Linked DNA regions of Homo sapiens. The protein of the gene in region 1 interacts with the protein of each later gene in a pairwise test. Each region holds a gene or a part of one and is shown on either strand. Other genes may lie near its edges.

Region 1 (3,679 bases):
AGGGGCCCGCCTGTCTCTGGATCCAGGAGTCTCCAGCCTGGGCCACCTGCACATTAAGCCTGGCTGGCCCCGTGGGGACGAGGACTGGGGGTGGAGAATGAATAGGACCCAGAGCCTTGAGACTGTCACATGGGATGGAGGAGGCTGCCGACGTGGATACTCAGAGATGATCACAGACCTGGCTTCTGTCAGGGGATGCATCCCACAGGCCAGGGGCTACTGCCACCTTTCACAGACGAGGAGCAGCGAGGCTCAGCAAGTGTGGGAACTTGTTCAAGCACGCACAGCTAGTCTGTGGTGGCGCTAGGATTCAGACTCGGCTCTAAAGAATCCCAAGCCCTGGCCCTAATCACAGAGCTAAAACCCCCAGGCCACACCCAAGAGCATCACCCAGCTAGAGGGAGGGAGAGGGAGCACCGGGGCCAAGGTTGCCGCCAGGGTCCCAGGACACATTGGTGCCGATCTCGATCACAGCATTCACCCCCGACCCAGATACTGGTGCATCTGATACCTACTGGCCATCCCCCAGGGTCAGGTCCCTGGGGCATCCACTGGTGGGGCTTGAGGGCTGCCAATGCTGCCCTTCCTGGTTGGTTCCCCTGGCATACCAATAGGTGTGTGCCATCTCACCGCTTCCCAGAGGGTTTTCCCTCCCCAGCTGAACGACAAGAATGAAAATGATCCCAAGTGGGTGTGGACATGGGACTGCTGCACCTGATGGGCAGAAGTCCAAACACACTGTGCTCCCCACACAGTGACTCTGGGTCTGGGCTAGCCAAGCAGTGAGAACTTTGAGTGGTTTTATGACCAGGGAGCCCAGGAATGCCCAAATCCTATGCCACCAAAAAGACACCAACGAATGTCTTTATTACCATCTGGCCTGAAACAGTCTGGAATGGGGCATCGGGTTTGGGCTCTCTGCCCAGTTGAGGCTTCCCTGCTCTAAGCCCAAAGCTTATCACCAGCCCACAGCTGGTCCCAAGGATGCCCCTGGGCCAGGATGCCAGTGAGGCTCACCCTGTCACCCCTCTTCTGCTGGGTGAAGAGCATTAGGAGGGGCCACAGCTCCATCCACTGGGCATATGGCCAACCAGATGAGTGTCTCTGCCTGCCATCAACAGGGACCTCCATTGTAGAACACAATGGCGGCTGCTCATATACAGTGGCGGCCTAGCACCATGGTATGACCCTTTCACGCCTCACCTCATTGAATCCTCTCCACATGCCTAGGGGTAAGAACTACAGCTGAATCAATTTCACAGGTGAGGGACTGAGGCTCAGAGAAGTTAAGAGATTTGTTCATGCAACTCAGAAGTGGCAGGAAGAGAACGAACGGATTTCAGGCTGTGGGGGTTGTATGTGAGGTTCATATGCGAGTGAGGTCCTCACCTCTCCAAAGCTTTCCCTACAGGCTTCCCTTCCATCCCCACTCTGACCTCCTAAAATGTCCAAATTACTCCATTCAGCTTTGTTGACCCTTTTTGTGTGTCTTAAATGGCTAGGAGCAGCATAACAGCATAAACAGAGGGTGAAACCCAGACCTTGAGTCCTGGGCAGCCTTAACACTTTCTGATTCTCAGGTACTCAGGTGAAGGGAGGTCACACTCCTCTCCCAGGGCAGGAGAGGGGCTTAAATGGCATCTGGCATATAAAGCTGTTAGCATAGTGACTGGCACACAGTAATCTCTCAATCAGTGGTACCTTCAGAATGTCTGCAGCAGGCTCGTCTGTCTGTTTCACCTGCCCTGCAGAATCCTTGAAGGACAGCACCAGCCCCCCTCCATCTCCTCCCCTAGCTCTATCCTATCCCTCCTCCCCAAGTGCCCAGCTTGGGGCCCCCCACACACTGCAGGGACTCAGTGAGTCCTAAACAACTCACTGACACTGGCAGAAACTTGGGAGAAAAGAAGCCACGCCTTCTTCCCCATCCCTGAGAAGGAGACAGCATTCCTGACAATTCCCAGCCCACCGCCTTCCAGCTCTAATCAAGGAGCAAACACAAAGAGGGAATCTCTAAACATTTAGAAAACGCGGGAACCCTGTGCCCCCATGTGGCACCGTGGGGATTTATAAAGAACAAATCATGCCTGACAAACTTGATAGCTTTCTTGATAGAATTACAAGACGGGTAGATGAAGGAAACGCAGGCAGGGTAATATATCTTGATTTTTAGCAAAGCATTTGATACAGCGCCTCGAGTAATCTTACAAAATTAATTCAAACAGACTTGGCCCTAAGCACTTGTCATGGGGCATAATAGCAGGAGGGGGCAGGTCCCAAGGGCCCCGGGTGGAGAAGGCAAGCCCAGAGGAAGGGGCTGGAGGGCCGCAAGTCTGGGAGTGGGGGCAGGGCTGCCAAGCCTCAGCATTGGGTCAGATCTTATCTAACATCTTCATTAATGATCCTGAGAGAGGGAGTAAACAGTCCGTTAATGAAATTTGCAGAGGATATTAAATTGGAAGGTGTTGTGAACACCAATGAGGACAGCAAAACAGTCCAGAGAGACCTGCCGGGGGTAGAACCTTGGCAGGAACCGGAGAGCTGGCAAGGGGTGTCCATGGGGGTGCCGGCAGCAGCTGGGGCTGCTTGGAGAGCCAGCAAGAAGGGAAGGGCATCCCCAGGGCTGGTGTGTAGCTGAGAGAGGCTACAACTAGCTTGGGCTCTGGCCATACAAGCAAACCCCAGAAATCTGTTTTCCCATCTGTGAAAGAGAAGGGTCGGCAGCTAAAGAGCAGGCTTTGCAGCTCTGACAGCTGGTTGTGATGGGCATGGGATGTCTTTAAGGAGCCTGGAGCTGAAGCCCATCTTCCAGGAGGGGAGGAGGGAGCCCTGCCAAGGAGCAGGGAACCTGAGGGCCATGGAGGGGAGGGCTGCAGTGAGAGAGAAGGGCCGGTAAGGGAGACCGGGTAAGGCATCAGTGGCACTCAGAATCTCCCCTAGCTGCACTCCTCAATGCTGCTGAGGCAGGCACTGGGGCGGGGAGCCCCTCACCCTGCCCCAGCAGGCAGGACAATAACAGATCAGCAGCTGCTCAGGCTGGAGCCCCAAGCCTGTCCAGACTCTCAGGGCATGCTGGGAACAATTGAGCACTAGAGGTTCTAACTTGGGGTTAGGAGAGTGTGCAGGATCTGTTACCTTTCTGAAGAGCTCCCTGTCCCTCTCTGGCTGATCAAGAGGAAGACAGATGCTTCTCCAGCCAGATGAACCAGCCTCTCTAGGATCAGGGACAGTGGCCTGCCCCACCCCAACCCCTTTACTCTGTCACAGAGGGCCACCATCTCTGCCTGGACCTCTTCTGCTCCTCTCCATCTGCCTCAACCCCTAGGGGCTCCAGGGCTGACCCCTGCCTTTAGCGGGAAGGCTGAGGCAGGGAGCTGCCTGTCCATCTGGATTTACTCCCACAAGGCTCCTAGACAGGTAGGGTCTGAACAAAACCCAGGGCTGCCTAGCACTGTGCCAGGCCCTCAGGAACCTGAAACAAATGCTCCGTAGAAAAAAATGGCTGGCTGCTTCCCAGCGGGGGGTGTGCCGGGGCCGCTGGGGAGAGGCTGTTTCAAAGCAGGAGGCCAGCCCAGCAAGATGTCAGGACCACCTGCTGGGACCTAGGGTAAGGATCTAGGTGAGCATGCTTGGGGAGTTTCTTCCAATGTCCTGACTTAATTCCTAGGAATGATGCTTT
Region 2 (3,679 bases), on another chromosome or scaffold:
GAGTAAAAACTCCCTGAGGGCAGGGATGTTGCTTATTCACTTTTATATTCTCAATGTCTAGCACAGTATCCTGCATAGTAGAATAGATATAAAATAAAATACTTCTCAGCAAGTTTTCTAGCTAGATATGTCTTTTTCTTTCCTTTGAATCTCGATAGCATTTTTTGAAAATTATCTTATGGCACTTATATCTTGTCTAATCTTTTATTTTTTATTTATTTTTAATTGACCTTCCAATGTAGGATTTTAATCTTTTATTATTTTTTAATCTAATATTTTAATTTCTTGTGCATTTATATCCCTTATTACACTGAGATTCCCTGAGAACGAGGAGTAACTATGTTTGAATTTCACTTCTGATACTTCTTAGTTGCATGATCTTTACCTCTTTGAACCTTAGTTTCCTTACCGGTGGAAAGTAAAGATTATTAGGCTGGCCTTGTAGAATACAGATAAAATGATCAGTAAATGTAGATGATAGTTTTCTGTAATCCTTCTATTTTACTTAAGTGTTTGTATCTTCATGAAGAAAAATGGGAAAATAGCATTTACCCTTTTTGATCAAAAGCCTCTTAAACAATTTAATTTGCCATTTGCTTCATACCTGCCCCCAGTCTGGCTAGGCTGGGACATTCAAAGACTCTCAAAAAGTTCATTTATGATCTACATGAGGACAAGCCAAAAAGTTCAGCCCAGTTTTTTTTGTGTCAGTTCCCATGTCACATTGTGTTTTTGAGAACCCCAGATGTGTATATGGGATTGCAAATCACCAGGAACAAGGAATTAAGTACACATTTTGAAAACTGGATTTGGTCTTTCACATATCAAATGCTTGGCTAGAAATAATCAGTGTATACACTGGGAAAATGGCACTTTCATATTTTTCTAATGACTTTAAAATGAAAGTATCCTACCTTCACCTCTCAAAATTCTTCCCCACCTGGTTACCCCTCAAAAAGGTACACAGTATCTAAGTTGGGAATGCATCACTAGAGTTCTGAGACTGAAATCTGATGTTTTTACAGAGGAAGCCCTCTTAATTCCAGCTGTGTCTATTTATAGCATGTTGTGCTATAAATGCATAGCTCAGAGGTGAGGCTTAAACTCTAGCAGGCTTATAAATGAACCCTTAGTCATCTACCACTTCTGGGAATAAGAGAAAAGAAATTCTCACTCACTAAAATCTCAGGAAATTCATTTCCTTCAAGTTTCCCATGTATTACTTTAGGACTGAATCCTTCCTACCAGTTTTATGGGGAAAGGGACAAATAGTGATATTTTGGTTAATACACTTGTGGACTTTTTTTTTTTTTTTTTTTTTTTTTTTAGATGTAATCTCACTCTGTCGCCCAGGCTGGAGTGCAGTGGCGAGATCTCGGCTCACTGCAAGCTCTGCCCCCTGGGTTCACGCCATTCTCTTGCCTCAGCCTCCCCAGTAGCTGGGACTACAGGTGCCCACCACCATGCCTGGCTAATTTTTTGTATTTTTAGTAGAGACGGAGTTTCACCGTGTTAGCCAGGATGGTCTTGATCTCCTGACCTCGTGATCCTCCGGCCTCGGCCTCCCAAAGTGCTGGGATTACAGGCGTGAGCCAATGCACCCGGCCACTTGTGGGTATTTTGCTGGTTGAGAATGTTCCTAAAAATTAGGGATCCTATGATACTTGGTTGTAAATACTACTTTGCCATAGTTTAGAGCAATGGTCCCCAACCTTTTTGGCACCAGGGACCAGTTTCGTGGAAGACAATTTTTCCACAGGAAAGGGTTGGGGAACATGGTTTTGGGATGAAACTGTTCCACCACAGATCATCAGACATTAGGTTCTCATAAGGAATACACAACCTAGATCCCTCATATGTGCAGTTCACAATAGGGTTTGTGCTCTTATGAGAATCTAATGTTGCTGATCTGATCCGTCTGTGGCCTGGGAGTTGGGGACTCCTGGTTTAGAGTATTTTTTTTTCTTTTATTACCAAAATGGCAGTAGAATAAACTTTTAACTAATCAAAGAAGGGTCTGAATATGGACATAAGCCTGTACATTTGAATTTTTGTATTGAACATTCAAGTTGGGCTTACCTCCAGGAAACTCACATACATTTTCTAAAATTGCTTTTTTACTTTAAAAGCAAAAGTTACTATAAAAATTAGAAATGATAGCTCAACAAACAGAAACATTATCTATACTTTATCTCTGGATGTTTTTTGCCTTGATATACGTCTTTTAAACCTTTTCTAGCCTGTATTTTTTCAATAATGAAAGAATGGTATACACAGTGATTTAAAATCTTCTCCCTCCCATCCATGTTATGAACATTTTTTCATATCAGCACATATTCTTTATCATTATTAAAGATTAATTAATTAATTCCATTTTATATGATGAAATCTGTTGTGTCCAAATTTCTCACTTAGAAACTGCTGCATTGAATATATATTTAGCAGTGTTTCTGTACCTGCTTATTTCCTGTGTAAGTTAATTTTTCTGAAAAGATGAAATTATACAACTCTTAAAATTCTCTCATTCTGAAGGTATCTTTTGTTACTACTCCTAATAACTACCATTTATGAATTCCTATGACATGTTAGCCACATGTAGCTCCTCCTTACATACATGAGTATTTATAATGTTTACAAAAATCTGTGAAGTAGGTGTTAAAATATGCCTCCTGAAGTTCTAAAGTAATAAGGCTAAAGACCTTGTAGGAAGAAACAAAAGAAAACCAAGCAAACCATGAAACAAATGAAATTTGTTGTGTAGTAATTTTTGTTGGGTAAGTTTCTGGAAAGGCAGTTAAACATTCTTTCCAAGATGACAACACAGGCTGATTAGTCCAGAGGGCTGTAGTTGTCCCCGTTCCCCATCAGCTGATTTACTTTCAGATCTATTAACCTTAGCACTACTGGAAATCATGTGGAGTAATAAATCCACTCATCACTGAGATTTTATTATTGTAAAGTTCAACAGATAACTGGATTTCCTCTGCTGAGAATCTGACTGTGAGTCATAAGCATTATCCTACACAATAAGAAAGGATGGGCTAAGGAATTACTGAAATACCTAAACTGCCACTTTTTAACGGACACTTTTTTCCTTCTGCCTTCACAGAGTGCAAATAAAACACTTCATGTTGTAAATTGATGAGAGCAGTCCTGCCTGGATGGGGCAAGACAGAAAGGCTGGAAGTTTAGTCTCAAAAACACATGCTATTCAGTTGCAGCAGCACTTTTTAGGGGTAACAGTAGGCCAAATTGAAAAGTCTTGGCAATTTTTGAACTTTCTTCTTAAAAACATATGTATTCAGGATTAAGTGTTACTTTTGGCCACTATGATTCTTCATCAGTGATTCTTTGTCAGGATTGGCAAACTTTTCCTGTAAAGAACCAGGAACTAAATATTTTGGGCTTTGCAGTCTGTTGCAACTACTCAACTCTACTTTTGCAGTGCAAAAGAAGCCATAGATAGTACCTACATAAACAGCACAGCTGTTCCAATAAAACTTATGGACATAAATCTGAATTTCACATAATTTTCATGTGTAATGAAAAAGTATTCTTTTGCCTTTTTAAAATCATTTAAAAATATAAGAGCTATTTCATAACTTGTGGGACATACAGAAACAGAGTCAGCTAGATTTGGACAATGGGCTGTTACACGCTGTTCCTGTTTTATGTCAGC

The links. The genes of interacting proteins can lie anywhere in the genome.
Region 2: the proteins of CHST1 (region 1) and STOM interact in binary tests that used the Homo sapiens proteins (3 or more experiments, as listed by UniProt).

The regions. Positions count from the first base shown.
Region 1 is NC_000011.10:45,658,948-45,662,626, forward strand, and holds part of CHST1 (carbohydrate sulfotransferase 1), read right to left. Parts: intron 1-3,679. UniProt on the Homo sapiens protein: Sulfotransferase that utilizes 3'-phospho-5'-adenylyl sulfate (PAPS) as sulfonate donor to catalyze the transfer of sulfate to position 6 of internal galactose (Gal) residues of keratan.
Region 2 is NC_000009.12:121,360,081-121,363,759, forward strand, and holds part of STOM (stomatin), read right to left. Parts: intron 1-3,679. UniProt on the Homo sapiens protein: Regulates ion channel activity and transmembrane ion transport. Regulates ASIC2 and ASIC3 channel activity.